6 separate regions of the Homo sapiens genome follow, and regions 2, 3, 4, 5 and 6 are each linked to region 1. Evidence: fine-mapped expression QTL. A gene starts in region 1. Each other region holds a variant in brackets. All regions are shown on one strand. Distances are between the middles of the regions.

What was found.
Region 2: its variant is fine-mapped to the expression of IGSF9B in whole blood (INTERVAL, PIP above 0.99).
Region 3: its variant is fine-mapped to the expression of IGSF9B in whole blood (TOPMed, PIP above 0.99).
Region 4: its variant is fine-mapped to the expression of IGSF9B in whole blood (INTERVAL, PIP 0.97).
Region 5: its variant is fine-mapped to the expression of IGSF9B in sun-exposed skin (GTEx, PIP above 0.99).
Region 6: its variant is fine-mapped to the expression of IGSF9B in sun-exposed skin (GTEx, PIP above 0.99).

Annotation. Positions count from the first base shown.
Region 1 is chr11:133,954,761-133,958,846 of GRCh38, forward strand. IGSF9B (immunoglobulin superfamily member 9B) reads right to left here and starts at 2,208. Exons shown (of 20, transcript NM_001277285.4): 1 at 1,931-2,208. The coding sequence starts at 1,994. RefSeq lists a silencer at 2,037-2,386.
Region 2 is chr11:134,033,888-134,037,973 of GRCh38, forward strand. It overlaps LINC02731 (long intergenic non-protein coding RNA 2731), which reads left to right. Exons shown (of 3, transcript NR_027276.1): 2 at 3,625-3,754. Among named protein-coding and RNA genes, the nearest start is that of LINC02731, 3.7 kb to the left of the region's middle. RefSeq lists an enhancer at 2,971-3,942 and silencers at 3,087-3,296, 3,377-3,666. The variant C/A (reference allele first, on the strand shown) is at 2,482.
Region 3 is chr11:133,920,973-133,925,058 of GRCh38, forward strand. IGSF9B (immunoglobulin superfamily member 9B) reads right to left here. Exons shown (of 20, transcript NM_001277285.4): 15 at 3,848-3,932; 16 at 1,597-1,758; 17 at 1,205-1,250; 18 at 1-425. Among named protein-coding and RNA genes, the nearest start is that of MIR4697, 24 kb to the left of the region's middle. The variant A/G (reference allele first, on the strand shown) is at 1,869.
Region 4 is chr11:134,021,648-134,025,733 of GRCh38, forward strand. The region is part of intron 1 of LINC02730 (long intergenic non-protein coding RNA 2730); the gene reads left to right. Among named protein-coding and RNA genes, the nearest start is that of LINC02731, 8.6 kb to the right of the region's middle. RefSeq lists an enhancer at 2,489-3,291. The variant C/A (reference allele first, on the strand shown) is at 2,386.
Region 5 is chr11:134,216,354-134,220,439 of GRCh38, forward strand. NCAPD3 (non-SMC condensin II complex subunit D3) reads right to left here. Exons shown (of 35, transcript NM_015261.3): 3 at 583-745. Among named protein-coding and RNA genes, the nearest start is that of NCAPD3, 5.6 kb to the right of the region's middle. RefSeq lists a silencer at 1-168. The variant G/A (reference allele first, on the strand shown) is at 2,435.
Region 6 is chr11:133,927,249-133,931,334 of GRCh38, forward strand. IGSF9B (immunoglobulin superfamily member 9B) reads right to left here. Exons shown (of 20, transcript NM_001277285.4): 11 at 3,736-3,886; 12 at 2,423-2,534. Among named protein-coding and RNA genes, the nearest start is that of IGSF9B, 28 kb to the right of the region's middle. RefSeq lists a silencer at 356-445 and enhancers at 3,246-3,918, 3,486-3,780, 3,566-3,860. The variant C/T (reference allele first, on the strand shown) is at 1,856.

The DNA of each region.
Region 1 (4,086 bases):
CACAGAGCAATTGAGGCTAAGAAAGACCCCAAGACCAGCAAGGTCACCCTCTGCTTCCAGACAGGGGTACATGTCCAGCCATTCCAGACAGAAGGACCCCTCTGCACCCTGAAAGAGGGCATAACCTTCATGCCAGGCAGCCTTCAATTTTGGGAAGCCCTTCCTTCTATCTTGCGATTCTGCGTGTTGCTGCAGTATAAACTCACATTCCTTTATTCTGGGCTGAAACTTGCAAAGAAGTCCATTGCCCACCCTGACTTAGGTTCGGAGGCTATTTCAGAGCCTTCCTTCAGCGTCTCTTTTCTATTCAAAGATCCCAGCTCATCCTTTTGTGCTTTCAGGGACAGTCCCATAGCAGGAACATACCAAAAACGGGAGGGGAGGAGGATGCGGGCATTGGAAGACGGCAAGGAAATGGGGGAGAGGATGAGGCTACAGGCAGACTGTCAAGCGCAGCCCGATGCACCTCACATCCACCCCCCGTTCCGTAAGCTTCCGCCATCACCCTTGCCTCAGTGTTCCCACCTGACAAATGAAGAGTTTTAAAACCGTCCGGACCAACATGTCAGTTAACAAAATCACCCTTCGCTTCGCCCTCTGCTCGTTCTGTTTTCAGACACCACCACCCCCCTCAGAAGCAGAGGCGACATATTCATTCCATTCCGGAAAGTTTCCTGAAGCACGCCCCCCTGCACAGACGAGTGACGAGGGGACCCCGTGAGAGGCGCCTCCAGCCCACCCGGCGCCCCATGCCGCTGGGAGAGGGTTCTCTGTCGGCGAGTCCTGCCTGCTGACTCCCACCCACAGCGGGTTCTCTCCCGCCGCCATCTCCTCCGGCTTGGTGAACTTGCCCGCAGCCGGGTCGTGTCTGCGCGCTGACAGCCCTGAGCTCACAGTCCTGGCACCCTCCAGGCTCCGCTCCCACTTCCATACAAGGGCCGAGAGCCGGGGGTGCCACCCAGAGGCTTGTAGGTCGCTCTGCCCATCTCCAAAGCAAAAGCCCGCGCGCTCACGCACGCATCACCCAACTCGGTGGCTCCCCCCTTGCGTCTCCCCCAGCTCAGACCCAGGAAAGCGGAAAGAGAAAATCCCCCCTCCGCTCGGATTCACAGCGTGGGGACCCCCCCTTCCCCGCCCCTCCCCTCCCCCGCCGCCGCCCCCAGCCAGCTCTGCCTCGCAGCCTGGGGAGGGCGGCGTGGGGCCCGCGCGGCTGCGGCGCGCTCCCGGGGAACTTTTGCCTGGCCGGGGCCCAGGTGCGGCTGAGAGGCGCGGGGGCCGGCGGGGTCCAGCCAAAAGCGGACACACCTCGAAGCTGGCCTCATCAATCCTCCTCTCACCGGGCGCCCCTGCTAGGGGGATCCGACCTCCAGCTGCCAAGATGTGTGGGCAGGAGGGGCGCGAGCGGAGCGATGGACGCCCGCAGGGCCGCGCGAACCCGGGGCCTTAGACGCGGGTGCCGCCAGTCCCAGGGATCCTCCGGGTCGCGCCTCCCTGCAGGCGCTCCTCGCGGCGCGGGGCTCTAGCGTGCTGCAGCCTGCCCGGAGACCGCAAACTCCCGCAGCCAGAGTTTCCCGCAGCTCTGGGAGGCGGCCGCCGGGCAGGAGGCGACGGGCTAGGCGCGCCGGTGTGCACCGTGGGGCCCGTGGTGGGCGAAGTCGACCCAGGTTCCACTGCGTCCTTTCCCCGAGTGCCCGGCAGCCCGTGGGCTCTGGCCCCTTCCCGCCCGCCCCTCCAGCCCACGGCCCCCAGGCCCTCCCCGGCAATGCTCCCGGGCCGCCTGGCCCGCGTCGGAGCCCAAGCCTCACCCGCGGGAAGGCGCGCCGGGGAGCTGGGGAACCGGGGGGCCAAGGAGCCGGGAAACCGAGGGGCCGGGCGCGAGGGGCCGAGGGCGCCGGGAGGGGCAGGGGAGGGACGCCGCACTTCAACTCACCTTCAGCCGCAAGCCCTCGGGTGCCGATCACACTTGCTATGAAAGTGGCCACATACCAAATCATAGTACTACCGCGCCAGCCCGGAGCCTCATCCTATCGCAAAGTGCTCCCGCGCCCGCACGCGCCTCGCGCCCGAGCGCCCGCCTCGCGCCCGCCTCGCGCCGCCTACGCCCCGCGCCGGTGCTCCTGCAGCCCGGGTGGCCAGCTCTCCATCCCTCCTAGGCTCCGCTCGGCTCGGCGCGCGCCTCCCCGGCCCCGGCGCAGCGGCACCTGCACTACTCGCCCGGGCGGAGCGCAGCCAGGTCCACGGTGAAGCCTAGCCGGGCCGGGCCTCCGGAACCGCCCCCGCCGCCCGCCTATTGGGCGCCGCCCGCAAGCCGGGGGTCCGATTGGCTCAGCCTTCCGCCCGTCGCGGCGCGAAGGAGGCGAGCCCATTTCAAGGTGCGTTGAAGTGTGGCGAGCACAGAGCCGCAGAATCATGCGCATTGCCGGGGAGAAGGTGGTATAGCGTCTCTGCCCGCTTCTCTCTCGGCTCACACTGCGTGGCAAGTTTCTGGTGAGGGAAATGGTAGCTTCTAACGGGACCCTGGCGGGTCTCAATTACCCCGGACAGGTCTGAGGGAAGTGGAGCCCCCGCCCACTCATGGAACCCAACATCCGGTTTCCATCCGGCAAAAAGCAGTTCCCGAGAGGACCATGCTGATTCTATGATGGGGAAACCCAGGAGCCGGCGGCCCGGGAGAGCCGGGGAACGTCCTTCGCCGGAGATCTTTTCAAAGAGGTCACGCGCCGCCTCCCCACCCCGTCTCCCTCCGCACCCAGACACGTCCCCAGAGCAGCGCACCACCCCCTCCAAACGTGATGCAGACCGGGGGATGACTAAAATGACCTCTCAAAGTCGCTAAGATTTAGAGTGAGTCATTGGCTCAGCTGCGAAGTGCCACAGACCCCTCAGGAACACTCGTGCACACACACTCCACCCCCAGTGCTGGTCACTGCTGCTCATCATTACTGAATCCCGACTCCAAGCAGTCAAAGTTGGGTCTTTTTCCCACTTCTCCTGATAAAGGCTGCTTCCTCACGCACATGGTTCCTCCCCTCTCCACCTTACTCGGAGCCCAGCCCCGACTCGGCCGCATGAAACCAAGATGGGTTTGGGGGAAGCTTTAGGAGTCTGGGATGGAGGAGACCCAGGGAAAGGGAAGGAGCTTCTCATCCTACAGAGGAATGTAAATAGGAAACTGGAAGGTCTTCGTATGTTCCAGTCTCCCTACCCTAGCCTGTCTGCTTCCCCTCCCCCAATACAGTTGTATTTGCAGAAGAAATAAATGAGTGTCATGGAAACATCTACTACAAACAATCACCTCACACCAGCGCTCAGAGGCTGCAGTGAAGATGTTTGTTCTTTCAAGGAGTGAAGGCAGTGGTAAGAATCACACCGCTCCCTGGGATGGGCTGTTGGCCAAGGAAGGAAGGCAGAGGGTCAGCGAGCGAGAGCTCAGGAATTTCATCCTCTCAAAGCACTCGTTAGCCACAAAGCCCTGGCTCCAGGACATGAAGCTCCCAAAACAACAAGAAGGAGACTTGCTTCTGGGAAAGCGTGCACACAGGTACACACACATGCACAAAAAGTGGCCTTGAACACCGGAGGTGGAGCATTCCCTGACACCGGAAGCCTCTTAGCTCACCGCCAGCTGGGAGGCAGAAAGAGGCCCCCAACAGAGCAGTCAGTGAGCACATGGATAAAGGTCGAGGGCCTGGATAGATCCAGAGAACCAGGACTGTTGAATAACCTTCTACCCTACCCACCCCTCCACCTGTGCAAACACACTCAAGATGCATAACTTGGGGCCATCTCTCCCTGAGCCATGATTTTGGTTCTCTTCTTGGGCAAAGATGCCTTTCTGGGGACAATGAAGTGAGCTGCTCCAGGTCTCATTGATGCAGTGATCTCCAGGTCTCATTGATGCAGTGATTTCCAGGTGGCATGACCCAGAATAACTCCACCCCCAACACACACACACACATATACATACACACACACTTACACACTTTCCCAGGGCCCCGGGACTGTAAAGACATATTGGAATCCATTTGCAGAATTGGTCATAACAGGATCCTTCTCCTCCCACAACCTCTAAGCAGCTAACTGTGG
Region 2 (4,086 bases), 79 kb after region 1:
GAAGGAAAGAGTGCTTATGCTGGTGCCCGAGAGATTGGTCTCTGGTAGAAGAAACATAGCCCCAGACTTGGAAGCCCGAATAGCCACGTGCTGTCTCCAAGACTCAGAGCAGAGACCCCTAAAGCTGAACCGGATTCACAAGAGGAGCAGAGGACCGCCTCCCGCAAACCCGGGAAGTCCTTGAGCCCTGCAGGTGCCGGCTTTCCCTGCTAATGAAGCCCATCTAGGCTGGAGCCCTCAGTCTGGGTGATGTCATCCTTTTGAGCTTCAGGCAGGCAAGGGGTGGAGCCAGGCTAGAGCTTTGCAGAGTTTGCACGCTCCACCCCTGACTGCTCTGACTTCTGGGCCCTGTCTACCCAGCTCCCTCTTGGCCACGGCTTCCTGGCCAGCCCTGCTGGAAACCGGGAGCTGCTGCAGAGCTGGAGGAGGGAGGGGGTCACCCAGATCACCTCTGCAGAGAGCAGGGCCTGGCCGGGGATGGGCTTCACAGAGGCCCTCTTCCACCCATCCATGCTTGTTCCTACGTTCACTTCAGGGAGCCCTGAGGTTTTGCGGGAACCCAGGGTCCTGGGACCCCAGCCTCAGCCTCTCCCCTCCACCTAGCATGTCCAGAAATGCTCATCTGCAGTACCAAGTACCAGGTGTCCCAGTGGAATTTCTTCTCTGAATACCACTCCGGGGAGGAATAAAACTGAGGGAGATAAGCACCACCCTGGGTTTGTTCGTGCTGAGCTAAAGGAATAAAGGCTCTGCACTGAATTGGAGCCTGTTCTAAGCCCCAAGGCCAGCCAGCCCTCCTGCAGAATGGTGCCTTCACCTCTCACATGCTCCTGCTGGACATAAGCCAGCGCTGTGCCAACTGCTGGCCTCCCTCTGATGCTGGCATTGGCCCCAGCTTCCTGCCTCCCCTCCTTCAGGGCTACCCTAACCCCTACCAGCCACCATGGCTTGAAGCATTGAGGTCTCTGGACTAGATAAAAATGTGGTCTTCCTCTGCCCATCATAGATGTGTAGGTGCTACTGGGGGTTTCCTCTGACAGCCCTATGCCTACCCAGGGTAACACAGGTGCAGGAAGCAGCCCCGGCTGGTCGGGGAAACTCACCACACCACAGGGCCTCTTGTTTGGACTCAGCTGCTTGGCACAGCCCCAGTGCCCAGGAGCAGAGAGGAGCTTTCCCAGGTGCAAGCCCTCAGAAAAGCCTGGGAGCCAAGCCTCTGTGTGCCCACGTGCCCAGGGCAGATGCCCCGCTCAGTGCCAAGGCCCTCTTAGCCCTCCCCAAGCCGTCGGCTCTGTAGCCATATGTCTGGGACAGACAAAAGTGAGGATGAGGGTGACACAGGCGGAGGAAAGGAGCGGGTGAGATTTCTACTGCGATTCATGAAGCCCTGGGCTAGGGCCTCAGCAAGACCGACCGGCACAGGCCTGATTCACAGCAGGAAAATGCTGCCCCGACTTTGCCAGCTCTTGACACACCCTGATAGCCTATAGCATCATGCATATTACACTTTGCAGTCTGCTTTCTTAGATGTTGAATTGTATTCCCACAACATTGCCATAATGGAGATAAGGCAGATAGTATTTTAATCCATTTTATGGATGAGGAAACTGAGGTAGGATTTGAACATCTATTTCTGGAAGGCCTCACAAGGCATGTGAAGGTATACAAAAATAAATGAGCAAAATAGCGTGTTATGAAGCCCAGGCTCCCAGAGGCCTGGTATCACCATCCTTCCCTACATCACACAGTTTCCCATGCTCAACTCAGAATGAAGAGACACTGCGATAGCTAGGAGCAGAGGCTCTCCCCCACGGACAGCTGCTTGAGGAAGGAGTGAGGAAAAGAGAGCAGGCAATTGAGTGATGAAGTGGACTGTCGCCTGGCCTGTGTGCCTGGGACCTGGGCATGGCCCGCATATGCAGACGGCGTGAAGGCTGTTGTTTCTGTGTGCACATGTGTACATGTCATGTAGGATGTGTATTCTGTTTTTAGGCCTGTACATACGTAGATCCATTGTGTGTGCTAGGAAAGGGCATTTCATATGTTCCAGCTAACTGTATCCAGTAACATGTATGGATGGCAAATGCGCGGACCCGAAGGATAGAAAAGGAAGACGAGGATGGTTATGTGGAAACGTGAGCAGGGTCTGTACATGTTTGCTGGATGACTGTAAGAGAAGAATTATACACACGGATTCAAGAATCCGCCTGTGAGGCCGGGCTCGGTGGCTCATGCCTGTAACCCCAGCACTTTGGGAAGCCAAGGCGGGCGGGTCACTTGAGGTCAGGAGTTTGAGACCAGCCGGCCAACGTGGCAAACCTCCATCTCTACTAAAAATACAAAAATTAGCCAGGTGTGGTGGCGCGCGCCTGTAATCCCAGTTACTCTAGAGGCTGAGGGAGGAGAATCTCTTGAACCCAGGAGGCGGAGGTTGCAGTGAGCTGAGATGGCGCCATTGCACTCCAGCCTGGGCGACAAGAG[C/A]GAAACTCCGTCTCAAAAAAAAAAAAAAGTGCACGTGAGCATAAGCTTGTGGGTGTGGGTGCACAAGCGTGGACTGTGTATAGCGATGGCTAAGTGTGTAAAGAGCTTGAGTACCAGCTGTAGAAGGGCATTTCCTGGGGGGGTCCCTGCTGAGACGCCAACTCAGGTGCTTCTGTGCCCTTCTTGCAGTGGGGTCCTTACAGGGCCGTCCCACGAGCCTGCTCAGAGCCAGGCAGCCCCGGCCAAGCCCGTGCCACAGTGCAGCAGCTCCTTCACCATCCACGCTCCTCCCAATTCCGCAGAGGACCCGAAACCTCAGTCCCGAGCAGATCAATTGCCGCTGATAACATTTAAATTCTGGCCTGGAGGTGCCGAGGCGGCCCTGGGAAAGAGGAAGGGAAAGGTGGCACGGATTTCAAGGGAGGGACTCGGAGTTAACAGATCTGATCCTTCCGAGCCTGCAGTCTCTAGCCGCGCGCCCCCGCCCCCACCCCCACCGCCAAGCCGAAAACCCAATCCTGGGCCCACCCATTTGCGTGGATGCCACAGCTCGGCCGGAAGGCTTCAGCGTGGGAGGGGGTGGGGGTGACACCAGGGCTGCCCCTTGAGAGCGACACCGGCCTGAACCCCGTCCTCCCCGCGCCCCCCAGCCCCGCCTCGCTGCAGACGGTTCGCCTTGTCCACTCTTCTCGACTCTTCTCGACTCTTCTCCACTCTTCTCGACTCTTCTCCACTCTTCTCGACTCTTCTCCACTCTCCCAACCAGAGGGCCCGGGAGGGGAGCGGGAGGAGGGGCGGTGCAGGGGCGGGTCTCCTCCGAGCAGGGCGGCCCTCAGCACCCCTTCCCGGACGTGCGCCCGGCACGCCCACACTCTCGCACGGAAAAGCCCCACTTCTCCTCAGCGTCTGGGTGCTGGGCCGTGCTGGGCCCTCCCCCGTGGAACTGGGATTTATGAAGCCGTAACCGGCCAGCGCCGCGGCAACCTCCGCTTCATCCTGGAGCCAGGCCGGCCTCCTGCGCCGCGGAGGGGAGGGCGGTGGGCGGGAGCTGGGCGGAGGCGTGGGGCCGGCGGAAGGCGGCGGGGAGCTCTTCCCGGGAAAGGCCAGCACCTGAGGCTGCACTTTCTCCCCGTTTCCCCTCAGGAAAAGACGCACCAGCAGCCTAGAATTCGAGGCACTGCAGAGCCGGAAGGGGCCTCGGCGCTGCTCCCTCCGCCCCCTCATTTCACAAACCGGAAACTGAGACCCAAAGCAAGGAAGGGACTTGGCCAAGGTCAGAGCTCACCTGGGACCACACGAAGATGATAACTTGCTAGGAGTTTTGCAAATGGGTTTGTCTACAGTTTGGTAGAATTAAAACATTGTTTTTAGTTCAGATTTGCAACAGTGGCCGGCTCCCTCTAATCCACAGTGGTGGAGCACTGTGATTGACATTCAGCTGCAAAGCTCTTGCTGGGAAACGCGGTGGCCGAGCCGTCAGCACAGGCGGCAGCTGCCTCCCACACTTAAGACAGGACTTCTAAAGCCACAGTCCCTCAAACGGCAGGCAGGTTTGTGAATGTTTCCGTGTTCTGAACATTTTTCTGCAAAAGGGTTCACAGCTTT
Region 3 (4,086 bases), 34 kb before region 1:
TGGATGACAGAGGGGTGAGCTGGGACTTCAGGGCGGCCACAGATGTGGGCACCAGTGGGTCCTCGTTCTCCTCGTCCGACTGGCGGAACTCGGGGTACATGTCCGTCTCCTCGGCGAAGGGGAAGCCCTCGATGCGCCTGCTCTTCAGCGAGGGCTCCATCTCGGCAGGGTCCATCACGAAGCGGCCGTCAGGGCCTCTGCTGATGAGCTCGATGGGCGTGGTGGCCTCTGCCTCGGCCTCTGCCTTGGCCACGCTGTACTTCTTGCTGCTGATGGCCCGCTTGGTCTTCTTGTACAGCGACAGCTCCTTCTCACGGGTGGGGCTCAGCATCCTCTTGGCCGCGGGCTGGCCCTGGTCGTCGGAGGATTCTGACGGCGCTCGGAGCGTGCGGATGCTCTCGGGGCTCACCTTGCCAGAGGACAAGCTGCAAGGAGGAGCAAGAGCCGGGAGGGGATGAGGTGGGGCAGTGTGCTGGCCAGGACTTCCTTTCCCTCTCTCGGCAACCACCCAGCACCCAGGATCCTCACGCTCAAGAAAACTGGCTGTGTATCGTGGTGTGAAATGCTTTGGCCAACTCTCCACCGTCTGGACGTGAATCCTCCTTTTTTTTTTAAAGACGGGGTCTTGCTATGTTGCCCAGACTGGTCTTGAACTCCTGGCCTCAAGCAATCCTCCTGCCTCAGCCTCCCAAAGTGCCAGGATTACAGGTGTGAGCCGCCGCGCCCGGCCCCCCCCATCATCCGTCTTTCCAGTGAACACCCGCCTCTTCACTTTTGTGCTGGCCTGCCCCCTCTCTGCTGTGCTCTAAGCACACCTCCAGCTTCATTCCCCTCTTTTCAAGACAAGCAAGCTCACTTTAATATCAACTTAAGCAACACATATTAAGGAGGCAAATCTGCTAGGGTGGGAAAACACTAAAGAAATACATTCCAAGGCTGAAGAGAAACTGATTACTGGCTAATTTGGATCATCTGCACTGCCACTCCCTCTACCAGCGTGGACAACTTACAATTAACACACAGGTCAATCAAGAAGAAATGGCTTAGAAACACTGAGATGGGGCTGGGCAAGTACAATTAACACACAGGTCAATCAAGAAGAAATGGCTTAGAAACACTAACATGGGGCTGGGTAAGGCGAGCGGTCTACCTATGCGCCCCCTGCCATGAACAGCACAATTCTCCCAGGATCTGAGACACTTACGGAGACTCCAGGCTCTTCCTGCAGTGGGTGATGGAGAGTGGAGGGTCTGGAAGGAAAGAGAAGGGGAGAGGCTGCTGAGGCCAAGCCAGCAACCACGCAGCACGCGCATCTGCAGAGGCTGACAGAGCCGGAGCACCACCGCACAGGGAAGGAGCTGCTCACAGTGGGCATCTTTGGCCCCTGCCTTCATGCTAGCTTGGGCCCCAGCAGCCTCTCCCCACCACCCCTGCTTCTTACCCCCACTTTCAAATCAAGTCTCACTGGCAGCTCTACCCACAAGATCTCAATGTCCCTATTTCCAAGGGGGGCCATGCTAAAAATGGTCCACCTCTCTTGATGGGGGGCATTTGAAACCGGGCCAGGGAGAGCAAGGGAAGGGGACAGACACCCACCTTTTTTGCGCTTGAGCTTACGCTTGCGCTGCTTGTTGACAAAGCAGGCAGCCAGGGTGCTGAACAGGATGGCAGCTGCCAAGAAGCAGATGGTAGCTACGATTCCCGCCAGCACAGGCCGCGCCAGCCCATCCTCGGTCAGGTCCGGCTGCGGGAAGATGTCTGCAGGGAGGGTGGGGAGCACTCATGAGCCCATCCTTCCCCGGGACCTCACCTGCTCCGACCTTCAGTCCCCAAGTGTTTCACCCTGCCTTTGTAGAACAGACAGTGTC[A/G]AGGCTCGGGCTCCAAGCTGAACTCTAGCACTGAAGAGGTTTGGATGGCGTCACGAAGAGGAAGAAGAGAGGAGAGTCTACAGAAGTCAATCTCTCCAAAGGGTGTAAAGAAGAAAACATCTATGCCTGTCCCCATGGGGATAATGACTTCAAGAGTAATCTATACTTATCTAGGGTTTTGCCTTCTGCAAAGCACCTTCATGCACGTTATCAGCTCTTCTCATGTTAACCCCATGAGCTACACAGAGCACACATACTGTTCTCATTCTCTAAATGAAAGAGCTCTGATCCACTGGGTTAGAGAGACCCGCTTACGTGGATATTGCCATCAGTGCCCAAACCAGAACGCAGCTGCCTGCTCCCAGTCTGGGATTTCCTGCCTCACACCAGTGTCTCTACAAAAGGAGAGCCCAGGTGTGAAGGCAACTTGAGGATAAAATACGACTGCAGGAAGAGGGATTATTACTACAAAATTCAGATCCTCTCCCCTTCTAGTACAGGCATGCAACGTCCTGAAGATTCGCATCCTGGTCATCTCAGGTACGGAAGTACCCTAGAGCTGGCAGGGACAGCAGAGATGGAGCCAAATCTCTCGTTTCACCATAAGGAGCTGAACGTCCTCCTTTCCTGCCCAAGTCTACAGAGCTCGTTATGACCGAGCCAAGACTAGACACCAGCCTACCATCTTATACTCATAGGAAAGTTGTGTCGGTAAGTGCCACTGCTTAGGTTCAGCAAAGGCAGAATCGATAGATTGTAACGTATTTGGCCAGAATTCATTGCTGCATCGATAATAATAATGGATAAAAATAATCCAGATGATGCTGATTGTCTGAGGGGAAAATGAAAGCTACAGCCTTTGGAAATGGGGGACCTAATACAGGGAATGCTGAGGCTGCTGCCTCCTCCTTCCCCTGTGTGGAAGTGTCTGACGAGGCACATTTCCTGCCAGGAGCTGGCATAGAGCTACTGAGCACAGAATGGTCAGGGGTGGGCCCACACAACACCCCTTCTTCAGCTCCAGCCTTGGATGCAAGCTCTCATCCCTGTTCCTCCAACTCTGAGTCTATTCCCCACAGAGAAGTCAAGAAAGACTGTGGGTTCTGCTACCTGTAGGACACAACCTTTTTTTTTTAAAGCCCATTGATGCCTAATGTATAAAGCAGAAATTGCACTCCACACCTGCCCCTGCTCTCGTGCTCCCTGCAGTGTGCCCACACCAGCACTTCCCCAACTCTACAAGTCCTGCTGCATGAGCTCCTCAGACGAGGTCACTGTCACCTGGTCCCAGGGGACTCTGGGTGAGCGGTGCCCAAGGAAATGATGCCATCACTTGCTTATAAGCAAGAGCCTTTTCCCATACCAAGGACACCCCTTCACTGGCGGAGGAACCTGCTATGTCTCAGGAACTATAGCTGGAGAGAAGATGTGTAGAAATGGGACCAGGGCCAAGAGAAAGAAAGATAAATGGAGAAAATGCTAGGGAATTGGCTTTATTTAGCCTTAAAAATCTAGAGAGAGGAAGGAAGGGAGGAAAACACCAAACAACAATTTTCCAAATAAAACCCACATAATTATAAAGAAGTCTATCACAAGCATTTGATAAACATGGTTGACCTGTTGTTTCCTCCGATTCACAGCCCCTCCCCGACAAGAGGAAACTGAAAATGTACAGCAAATAGCACTTCAATCAAGTCCTTTTTGACTACTATAATGAGAAGATTAGTTGAATTTCTTTCTGTGGCTGTCTTATACAAGTGTCAGAAACTCAGCTTCTGAGCTTCACGAAATAGCATGCATCATGGAAATATGGGTCTGGTGGGCTTAAGAAAGGCTATGACTCACGCAGCTGCAACCAGGCACTGCCTTAGTTTCCAATCCAGCTTCTCCTCGTGGAGTAGCCATTTCACAAAATGACCCCCATGCAGCTCTGGGGCTTATGTCCCTATAGTTGCAAGAGCACCCTCAACCCAAAATACCTGTGCTGGAGACGCCGGCGATGTTGCTGGGCTCGCTGATCAGATCCTGCATGACGGCCAGAACCCGGAACTCATACCACGTGTCCTGCAGCCCCAGGGACAATACCCAGTCAGCCGAGGGACCTGAGATGACCACTGTCCCCTCACACACTCATCCTGCACACAGCCTTGCAAAGGGCAGGGCACCCAAAGCACAGGAGGACTGCTAAGTGTCTAATGCTAAGCGATGGTAGCACTGG
Region 4 (4,086 bases), 67 kb after region 1:
AATGGAGGACGTACAGGGGAAATCCTTGCAGCCAAGAGCACAGATCTTGGGCTCAGCACGTGCTAACCAGTGGGTCCAGGGAGGAAACAGAACGAGGCCAGCAGCCGAGGCCACCTGGATCTTTCCTTCCCCTTTCCTTTCTCCCGCTGCGTGTGTGTTGGGGGTGGTGGGGAAGGGGAATTTTGTGACCAAACCTACTAGTAAGACTCTTCCCTCCCCTTCACTAAGTGGCGGAGGCAGCCGGCTAGTCCCTCCTCTGAAGAGTGATCTTCTCCCTAAGAGAAGCCAACTGGACTCTAAAACATTGTCTTGGCCGGGCGTGGTGGCTCACGCCTGTAATCCCAGCACTTTGGGAGGCCGAGGTGGGCAGATCGCCTGAGGTCAGGAGTTTGAGACCAGCCTGACCAACATGGAGAAACCCCATCTCTACTAAAAATACAAAATTAGCCGGGTGTGGTGGTGCATGCTTATAATCCCAACTACTCAGGAGCCTAAGCCAGGAGAATGGCTTGAACCCGCAAGGCGGAGGTTGCAGTGAGCCGAGATTGCACCATTAAACTCCAGCCTTGGCAACAAGAGCAAAACTCCTCCTCAAAAAAGAAAAATAAATAAAAAACGAAACACTGTCTTCTCCGTTTTCGTTTTGCCCTCCGTATAGCGGCAGCTCAATCTATATGCTGATTTTTGTTGTCCACACATCAAATGGCAAGAGGCTGCAGCCCACAAATGCTAACTGTGCAGGAAGCTTCACAGGACAGAGTTTGTTTATTGTTCTGCAGCTGGTAGAGGCTGAAGGACATTGGAAGAACTGGGCTTCTTGGGGCTGAGATGGGTGCTTATAGGCCTTCAGCCCCTCCCACCAGGGAGGAACATACCTCTAGGGAGATGTGAAAATTGCAGTTTTATTTCTAATGATCTCCAGGGTAAAGGTCTTGGTTACCTGGCTCCCCACTCTGAGAGTTAAACCATCCTGATTGTCAGAGTTCCTGCTGCTAATGGAATGTTCCAGATGTATCTGCAGGGGAGAATTTTGACAGGCCTGAATCCCAGACCTGCTGCAGGATGCTCCTGAGAAAAATAACCTTTGCATTTCCCAATTTCACCACAAACACTGGAGAACGGGTAGGAAGTGCTGCATAAATTGTTTGCACCTGGTGAATAGGCCAGCTTGCGGCAAGAGTCCCTGGAAGGGTCATGTGGTTAGGCACGGTACCAGGCAGGAGAAAACAAACAAGAACACGAGAATGGAGAGGGAGCATCTCTGGGTGAGGTTGGCAGAATCCCAATCTCTGTGTGGGCCACCCCAGCTGTGGGTCCTCACAGGAGCTGGGGAACCTGGGAGCTGTGCTCTGTCTGGGAGCGCGCTGCGGCTCTGGCTCAGCGTCCTTGAGGATAAAGAAGGAACATGCCTAACTTTGCCCATTTGCATTTCATATCCATCATCTCGATTTTGCATTCTGGCAACTGTGCAAAATCTAATCCTCACTCTTCTTACTGGTCAAGTGTTCTTACTTCTCCTTTGAGGTACACAAAAGTTGAAAAAGAATTAGAACTTCTTTTAAGGCACATGCATGGTGTTGGGTTGGATGAACCCATCCAAGATCTAGCCCCAACCCCATGACACAGTCCACCCCCCCCTCCCTCAGATTGACCACACAAAAGCAGCTGGACCGGAGCATCTTTACTATTCCAGACTCAGCTCCCCTAAAAGTCCACTGCGTCCTGACTTCTGCTAAGATCCTGCACTCAAAACAAAGTACTGCCACCAAGGTCTCCTCAAAAGCCATTGGGCGTTTTCAAGGTATGTGTACCTGGGCACCTTCCCCCAAGGTGTAAGGTCAGTTACCAATAGGAAAACAGCCTCTTTAATTAAATATTTACTGTGTATATTGTGTACAATTTTAGACTACCTGTATGTGTGTGTGTGTGTGTGTGTGTGTGTGTGTGTGTGTGTGTGTGTGTGTATAGGTAAAATAATATTTGGTGATTTGCATCTTCATTTCACCCATCTTACTGTCCCTGGTGACAGCTGTGCGTGACTCACGCTGGCTCTTCTGACCCAGGTCTTCTTGCTTATCTTTGGAATATAGAAGAGAGGTGAAAAATGTGAATGCAGCCTCTTTTAAAACACATGCTCAGTGTGGCCTCTCCCAGGATGAGGCGTTGGTTGCTCCCATCCCAGGTCTAGTCCCGGCTCTGCTAACATTTCACAAACACTATCTCTTTGAGTCCCCATGAAGTAGGTAGTTTTGTCCTCATTGTACAGACTTGGAGAGGTTGAGCCGCTTGCCAGAGCTGGGGAGTGCCTACTTGGGGCTGAAATCTAGGTCCCCTTAACTAGAAAGCCTTAGCTTAGTATCTTGCAGTGGAGGAGCTCCTGACCCC[C/A]ACTTCTGATGGGGTGCATCGGAAGTGCTTTGAGTGGGGCTGGGCGCAGTTACTCACACCTGTAATCTCAGCACTTTGGGACGCCGAGGCAGGGGGGTCCCTGAGGTCAGGGGTTCGAGACCAGCCTGGCCAACATGGCAAAATCCCGTCTCTACTAAAAATACAAAAATTAGCTGGGCGTGGTGGTGCACGCCTCTAGTCCTAGCTACTCAGGAGGCTAAGGCATGAGAATTGCTTGAACCTGGGAGGCAGAAGTTGCAGTGAACCGAGATTGCACCACTGCACTCCAGCCTGGGCTACAGAGCGAGTCTTCGTCTCAAAAAAATAAATAAATAAAATAAGTGCTTCGCGTGTCCAGGGCCCCGACTCCGAGGGAAGACCCTCAACCTCTTCACATTACCACTGGACCATTAAAGGGTTAAAACATCTTTGATCTGGAGCCTCAGCTGCTCATCCTTCTGTTTTAAGGGCCTCTGAATCATTAGCCTTTCCAAGCAGCCTCCCTCTGCCGCCTGAGGCAGGTGAAGTGGGAGAGGGGAGCGGCCCGCCTGGGTCCTGAGTCAGCGCTGACTCCCCACGCTGTCCTCCACAGATTAATCACCTCCAATTACAGCTTCTGACTGGGCACGAGTCATTCCCAGCGGCGCCTCCTCGGGCCGACCCTCGCCCCCCTGCAAACAGGCTGCCTATCCGTCCAACATGCTTGCTGTACTTCCCAGAGCCCCAAAAAGGTACCCCGGCAGCAAATGACTCAAGGATGAGGACCCACCCTCTTCCCCCTCACCATCTGCTCTCAGCAACATGAGTCTTCTGGGGGCAAAAAGAAAAGAGGACATGAAACTCCTCCCTTCCAGCAGCCTACAGAGGCCTGTGCACCCTTCCATTAGCAGGTTGGATAATTCTTCGTGGTGTTTCTCCTCAGCAGTGACTAATAAAGCTTGTTCTCATTTCCACTAATCACACATCCTCATAGAGAAGGGTGACACACACTTGGCGTGGCTCTGTGACACCCCTTGGAAAGTGTTCCATGGCCCACCCAGCCTCTTTTCCTCGAGCCCCGCTCTGGCCTCCCTCACACCTGCCTCCCTTCTGCCCCTGCCAATGAAGCCGGGGCCCAGCTGCCTCGGTGGAATTCCTAAGCATCCTGCTCTTGGCTGCTGACCCGGGCACATGGGCACCCAAGGGCATTATGCCATCTCCCTCCTCAGCGGGTATCACACTGGGCTCCCTGCCCTGAGCTGCCAGCCAAGGGAAGGGCACACAGCCCCGTGGGGCACGAGCCGGGCCTCAGTGCCAGGGTACTGAGTGCATTGCTGTAGTATATGGCACAGTTTACCAAGAACTTTCCCGATTCTTGGGGCACGAGCCGGGCCTCAGTGCCAGGGCACTGAGTGCATTGCTGTAGTATATGGCACAGTTTACCAAGAACTTTCCCGACGTTGTTTCATTTGATCTTTACGTAATCAATAGTGCTCACTATACAATCATCCTCTATAGAACATGGTGTTCCCTAGAGGTAAGAAAGCTGAGGCCTGAAACATGCACGTAGCCCACCCACACTCAATTAGTAAGTGGCAATGCGTGACTATTATGCCATAACCCAGCTCTGGCATTAGGGTCAGAAGCCCTCCCCCACAAAAGTCCTCTCTGTATGAGCTTTAGAATTAGGCAGACTCATGGCTGAATGCTATTCTAATTCCA
Region 5 (4,086 bases), 260 kb after region 1:
TGTTCCACTCTCTCTCACCCTGTGTTTGGAGTAGGGAAGAGAATGGATTTCACTGTCATAGGAGGAACAGCCTCCTCAGTGCTCTGACAATCAAGTAAAACAGTGCTCGAAAACAGACTCCTGGTCAGTGCTCTCCTTCAAGTATTACTAGCTGCTTTCCTGCTTTCTTGATTAGAATGGTTTTAATCTATTTTTCAATACCAACATCGGAGAGGTAAAAAGCAATGACTCCCCACAGCAGTATTTCTCAGTCTAGACAAGGAATCATGAGAAGAAAGGGCAATATCAGAATTTTAGACGGCCGTGGTGGAGGGTGGGCGTGGAACTCTTGCACTCCTTCTCAGACTATTTTTATTAGTTTATAGATAGCATAACTTCGGATGAAAAAAAAAAGGGGGAAGGTTTTCCAAGACCTATAACATGCCATGTACTTTAGAGACTTGCTCCTCGCAACAACTCTCTGCCATGGGTTAGCACTGCCCCATTTATAAGTGAAGAAACAAGAAACAAAGTATAAGAATTGAAAACTGTAGAAAGAAAAAAATGACAGAAGATTTATCCTATCATATCAGGTCTACATACCTGGTACTTCTAGTAGCAAAAAGTAAAGCCCAGCGGCATGAAGGCCATATTCTCGATACTGTACACTGACATTCTTCTTATGAACTATTTGAACAAAATGATAGAACAATGCCACCAGTGTACTATGGGAAACATTGTTCTCAATGAAGAAGGTCCAGATACTCTGTGGGGAGACCGCAAATCACAAAAGCCAGTCATTAGAGAAATGGAAACATTTCCTATTATTTGATTTTTGTAAGTTCTTGGTGCCTTACAAAAAGAGGAATAGAGTAGCCTGGCTCCTACTGCTAAATGTTTACCATCTTCAAAGGGACTGAAACAAAATATCAAAATTAAAGGTATATTATTCAAAATTACCAAGATAAATATGTATATAACATATTTAAATAATTAAACTTTCAAAAGAATTTTTTGTTAAGTTTGTAGCATATATACTTCAGAAATTATAGCTTAAAACTACACTAAGACTTTTGGGACACCATATATTAGTGATTATTCAGGAAAGTTATCCCTCTATTTATATTAAAAGGAACTCAAATTCCTTTACCAATAATTACTAACTGAGGAAATCAGAGCCCTTTATTTAAATGTTCTGCAGATTGCAGGCAATGGGAGCAGGAAATGAAAGAGATCTCGGAAATGGCCCAGGTAAAGGAGATAAACCCTAGAAAAGAAACCACAATTGTATTAATTCTATCTTCATTCCATGTCTTCTCCTACTAAACACATGAAGAAGAAATGGGTTATTTTAATAACCTAAACATAGCAGGAACTAAATATGGTTTATCCTTGAGTATCGTAACAAAAAAAGGCCCACAAAATTCAAGTGAGCAGAGCACTCTCCTTTCCTTAACTAAAAAACTTACGGGAGAAATCATCTCCACTGGGCACAATGGCTCATGCCTGTAATCCCAGCACTTTGAGAGGCCAGGGCAGGAGGACTGCTTGAGCCCAGGAGTTTGAGAACAGCCAGGGCAACAAAGCAAGACCTTGTCTCCACAAAAAATAAAAAATTAGCTGGGCGTGGTGGCACACACCTGTAGTCCCAGCTACTCAGGAGGGTGAGGTGGGAGGCTCATGTGAGCCCAATAAGTTGAGGCTGCAGTAAGCTTTGACTGTGCCACTGCATTCCAGCCTGGGTGACAGAGCAAGACCCTGGTCTCAAAAAAAAAAAAGGGGGGGGGGGGAAGAAATCATCTCCTAACTTTACAGTGTCACATCCTCATTCCTAATGCCACCTGCACCTCCACTTCACACACGAGGGTGATCGATCACCCTAAACCATCTGCTCACCAGGGCTCTGCATATGGGGTCACCTTGGCCCCATGTGATCCCATGGCTGCTGTCTAGTCTGGGCGTCAGTGACCCTGCACTCCCTACATGTGACTGCTCCTCTGCAGACCCCGTCCAATCAGCTCTCCATTTCTGTCCTGGCTGCTTCTCACCCTCGGTGATCTCATGCATCACTGTGCTTCAACCCATACCTCAATTTAAAGAACTCTCTTCTCTCTCCTGGTCTCACATTTCTACTACCTGTTAAACTTCCCAAGGATCTCCTGACAGAATCTCAAGTTCAGAAGTCTAAACAGAACTGTTTCTCCATTTGACCTTGCTCTTTTTCCCTTATTCCCCACCTTGGTTAACAATATCATCATCTTCCTAGTTTTGAAACCCTGGGGATCACTGACTTCTTTCTTTTTCTAATTCCCTATGCCCAGTCAGTTTAGCACTTCACACCATGTTTTTAAGATATCTCAAAAGGGCTTCCTAGTTCACAAGGCCCTATTAATTCTAATTCCAAAAATGTCCCTAGTTTTTAGTCTTCCTTTCCAGTTCCCAAAATTGTAACTCC[G/A]GATCATGCCATTATTACTCATAACACCTGGATCACCAATACAGTCTCCCAAGGGCTCTCCCTGCACACAATTTTTCCCACTTCAGTCCACCTACTGTCAAGAACGTCTGCTTAAAACAGATCTATTCATGTTACCTATCTATTGCCCACTGTAACCTCTTTCACACAGGCTGCTTGAGGATTAAATGAGTTAATACATGCAGGACGCTTAGAACAAAACCTCATACACACTCTACCAAACATGTTCAAACTCCACTGCTGAACCTCACGTAAAGCTACCCGTGACCTACCCTTACTCTACCTTACCATCCCGTTCCACCACACTTTTTCTGTATGCCTCTTGACACTTCCTGCGTGTTCCCATTGGGTGGCTCCTTCACTAGGACTGCCTTACAACCCAAGCTTCTGCTAGTCATCTGTGAAGATTCGCTGCTGGCCACTTTCTTTCTGGAACTTTCCCAACCCTACCATGCTCCCTTTTTCACACCCTATGCAACAAATCCGCACCTCTCTTGGAGCATTTTTCACAGTGTGGTTCGTAGAATATTTCCAGGCGCCCAAATGCACAGTGGCACTGAACTCTCCACCCCCTGCAACTGCATGTGGCTGCTAGACCTACTTTGGCTAGTGTTCAAATGTCCACTCTTCCTCCCTGAGGTCCCTGGGGAGGACCTCAACCTAGGGAGATTGTATCGTAATCCCCACTCTGTCAACTCAGGTACTTAAGGCAGTGCTTAGTGTTATGCTGAAGGAATGTTTAATTAGATGATTTAATTTTGTGATGTGAAACTTGGAAGTGAATTTTTTTTTGTTCATTTAAATGTTTCAGAGATGTTAATATCCAATTAGCTTTTGTTCTGTTTCCCAACCCTTTGGTTTTTTTTGAAAACTAACAACCTAAATATTAATAATAATTTATATTTCTATGCATTGGATAGAACTCAATATTTACAGGAACTGTTTGGACAAACCTGTTAATTCAACTAGTCATTCCTCAGTTTAATAATATCAGATTTTCTTTTTTTGTGAGACAGAGTCTTGCTCTGTCGCCCAGGCTGGAGTGCAGTGGCGTGATCTCGGCTCACTGTAACCTCCGCCTCCTGGGTTCAAGCAATTATCTGCCCCAGCCTCTCGAGTAGCTGGGATTACAGAAGCCCGCCACCACAACCGGCTAATTTTTGTATTTTTAGTAGAGATGGGGTTTCACCATCTTGGTCAGGCTGGTCTTGAACTCCTGACTTCGTGATCCACCCACCTCGGCCTCCCAAAGTACTGGGATTACAGGCATGAGCCACCATGCCTGGTCGCAGATTTTCTTAAAGTTAAGGTTAAGGCATGTCTGAATTGTTATTTGCATTTTCCTTGGTCTAGTTTTCTTGTTTTTGCCTTTATATTTTTCCTTTTTTTTTTTCCTTCTGAGATGGGGTTTTGCCATGTTGCCCAGGCTAGTCTCAAACTCCTGAGCTCAAGCAACTGGCCAGCCTCAGCCTCTCAAAGTGCTGGGATTACAGACGTAAGACACCACACCCGGCCTTATACTTTTCCTTTAATTTGCTATTGTAAAAAACAGTCGTGTCTTAAAAAAAAAAAATCAGACAAGTACCTTGAAGCTTTTGGAGGAAAGCTCTTAGGATATTCCAATAAATTAACCA
Region 6 (4,086 bases), 28 kb before region 1:
TGCCCAGCTTTGGCTGTGCCAATCCTCCTGATGCTGGGTCACCAACCACAGCTGGCATCTTTTCTACCAAAGGGGCCTTTAGGTGCAAGTCGTGCTCAGGACACTGGTCAGATGGATTACCAGCTGCATTGTGGGAGAATCCCACCCTGGTCACAACCCTAAGAACAAGCTCTGCCTTGGGAGAGTAAGGCTCTGGGGTATGGGGATAAGCGGCTCAACAGTGGCAGGATGAGGGAAGGAGCCCAGGACCTGGCTGCACACACCCCCAGGGACAGCTGAAGTAGGGCCTCGGGTAACCCACAGGGCTCATTCATCCAATCAGACTGGAGTCACCTGAGATGTCCAGGGTATAAGACCATAATGACCAGGGGTTTCCCCACAGTGGGGCCAGGATCCCTAAGGCCGTAAGGGTTGGAAGAAGGTCACGCTATGCATGGAGAGTAGGAAGACGGGCCGAGGGTGTTCCCTTGTTCCACAGGCTCCCAACTCCCAGCAAAGCCGGAGGGCTATGGGTGCAGTGCTGCCACGTCACCACAGGGAGGAGACATGGTCCTGTGGGACTGGCCCTCTCCTTGCAGCCCTGAGCTGTAACCTGGTGGGTGCCCTCCAGGATCCACTCCCGGGTCCCGGCTCACTACCGTGCACGCCCAGGAGGGTGAGATGAGGCAGCGGAAAGCAGTACAAAAAGAAGCCGGCGCCAAACGTCGGAGTCAGTGCACAGAGTTAGAGGCAGGCAGAAAGAAAGGAGACCTCCCCAACCTCGGCCCCGCCCTTCCCTGGCCCAGGCAACAAAGCAGCGAGGAGCCACGTGTGGAAAAGCAGTGCAGATGAGCAGCAGCGTGGAGCAGCAGCGTGAAGCAGCACCGCAAGCAGCAGGGGAGCCCCAATCTACACCTGAGCCCCCCATCGTATGCCCAGACCTCCCACCCAGGCATCTCCAAAGACAGCTTGACCACACCAAATGTCCCACCCTGGACACCTAGGCGCTGAGCAGCACCGGTCTCCCAGCAGCCACCGGGCAGGCTGGTTAGGGCCCCCACGCTGCTGCGGGAGGAACAGAGTAAGGGGACGGGAGGTGAGCTGCGGCAACTCCCATCATCCAGGTGCAGTTCTCCAATCAGAATCAAGACACCCAGGACACTCCGCCCGGGAAGCAGCCACCGAACCACCATGATGGGAGACAGAGCGGGTGCCCCTCTCAACTTCCCTCGCTGCTGAGAAGTGGATAAAGGGGTCTCCCTGAACCCCCTGAGCTGCCCCAGGTGCCTGCCTTTTCCCCCTCCCCTCGAGCTCCCCCTCCTCGAGTTGAGCCTGGCTAGAGAGACACCTGCAGGTGAGACAGGTCTAAAAGAAGGCACTGAGGGGCTCGCCCTCCCAGCTCAAGGTTGTCACCCCCGGGGCAGGGCAGGTGGCTGCCACTCTTACTCAAACAGGAGTGTAGGGAGGGGCAGCCCTTGGGGGTGGGAGGAGTCAGCTAGGCTTCCTTCTCCTCCCTTCCTGTGCCTCCTGCCCTCACCCCGCTTGGCACATTTTTGAGATCTGTATCTACCCTAAGGTTTGCGCAAAGACCTCATATGACTGCATCTGGCTAAACTGACAACAGAGGAATGAAAACAATCGAGAAACACATGGTCCTAGAGAGAAAATGCAGGGGCTGACCCCAAGGCTGGGAAGTGAGCATCACCTCTCCACACCAGTTTCTGTGGCCTCTGGGGAAAAGACAGAATAAAAACTAGACTACAGGAGGTGGGGAGGGTGAACACGTACAAATCATAGTGAGAAAGAACCAGTAAGACCTGGTGTTTGCCAGCACAACAGGATTACAAGCAACAATAATGTATCATACATTCTTAAA[C/T]CACTATGAGTATAATTGGATTGTTGGAACACAAAGGACAAATGTTTGAGGGGTGGATACCCCTTTACCCTGATGCGATTATTACACACTGCATGCCTATATCAAAATATCTCACGTACCCCATACCTACAAACGTATGTACCATGTACCCACAAAAATTACAAATACAAAAATACAAAAAAAATTAGTCTAAAAACTAGACTCTACACTTAAGGCTGGGCAATTTCACAAAGCCCTTGAAGGGCAGGAGTCTCTTCCAGGCTCCAGAGGAATCCAGAGGATGAAGCAGGACGCAAAACGAGGCAGCACGTGAGCAGGGAGAGGGCACAGAGAGGCCCAGACCCCTCAGGCCACAGGGACACAGCCATGCCCAGAGTCCCTTCAGACCCCTCCCGTCACCCACAAGGACCTCATCACTGTCTCAACCCACCTCAGTCTGTGCAGGGCTGGCAGGCCAGGAACTGCAGCCTCCTCCTACCTCCCCCCACCCGGGGTAGCCTGCAGGAAGACCGGGGAGGGGAGAAGCAGAGAGCAAAGCATGCCGGGGTGACTCACAGAGGTCCGTACCAAACTGAGAATGTCTGCTCGTAGCCTCCATCATAGCCTGGTTCCCAGGACACGTTGGCAGTTGTCATGGAGACCTGGACCCGGACACTGCCCGGGGCATGGGGGCTGGTGCCTGGAGATCAAGTGGAGACCTCTCAGACTGAAAAGAACTCAGCCACGTGGCTGGGTGCCCACCGTCTGGCTGTGGGGAACCTGAGAGGCTGAAGCGCATGGCAGCGGAGCACAATACTGCAAGTGAAGGGATGGGGGCGACGGGGATGCTCTCAGGCGCCGACTCCCCTGACCCTGCTTGTTAGTGGGGTTGGAGCAGGAAGCCTGTCCCACTGTGCGGTCTAGTCCAACTAGGAGATCACATAGCATCAGGAATGGGTCCAACAGAAACCAGAGCCCTCCTCGTCCTGGCCCAAATCCTGTGCTTCTCTGGTGAGCACAGAAACACTCTCTCCTAAGGCGGCAGGCACAGCCACAGAGCCCCTCCCGTAAGGTTCTCTGGCCTCAGAAGACAACTCCGTCCCACCCCAATGCTGGCATGTGGGCAGCACAGCACAGCAGTTAGGAGCCCCATCCTGGCTTCGATTCCCGGACCCACTACTTCTTAGCGATGTGACGCCGGAGAAAGCATTCGGGCCACGGCAACCTCTGCTTCGAGGAACCTACACTAGAGAAACCCCAGCTCGCACCTCCCGAGTTGTGAAGGACGAGCTGTGCAGACCACTTGGAACAGAACCTAAAACTGGTGGTAAAGGCTCCAAAAGCATTGGCTGTGACTGTGATTATAGCCGTCAGGACCCAGAAGGACAGGCTGAGAGGGCCCAGGCGAAGGTCCTGGGACACGCGCTTCGGGCAATCGGAAACGGGAACGCCCAGACACAGAACCCCAGAAACTTCCTCCTGCCCAGCCTCCGCACGCCAGGCCTGGCCTGCAGGTCTCAGCTCTGCCCTCATCTGAGATGCTGCACAGTCCCCGTCTCCCTCATTCCAGCCCTCCAGCTCTCCCTAAGGCCCTTAAACTCAAGGCTCTGCAGTCCCTGCCAGCCACACAGCCGCCTCTTTCCCTCAGGTGGGCTGCTGTGGACATCAGGCCTGTCCCCAGAAAGACCTCCCTGAGGACAGGAGCCACGCTGCCCTTCCCCGACAGAGCCCACGGGGGCAAAGGCTGCCGGTGCTGGACGCGGAGTTCAGGGCTGCACTGACTTAGGAAGGGAGCCCGCAGAGTGCAGCGGCCACCAGGGGACGCTCCCAGCGTCCAGCACCCCGCCCCCAGCCAGCCTGCTCTGTCCCCGCCGCCCGGCCCAGCCTTGCCGGCCACGTACCGATGACGGTGAGGTGGGTGCTGGCAGTGATGCTCGTGACCACGTTGGTGGCGACACATTCCCACTCCCCGTGGTCCTCCTTACTCAGGGCACGGAACTGCAGGCTCCCACTGGGCAGGGCACTGTGCTTGCTTCTGCTGGGCTTCCCTACCTTGGTGAACAAGGGGCAGGGAAGAGGGTGGGAACAGAAATGGGGGTTAGGAGAGAAGCCCGAAGCAGATGGGGAGGACGCGCCTGAGACCCCGGCCCGCCCACGCTGCCCTCCTCCCGAGTGCCTGCCGCTCTTCAGGGTCAGCTCACTGCTCGGCATCTAGCCTGGTCAGGGCAGGTCCAGAATAGAACTGCTCGCTG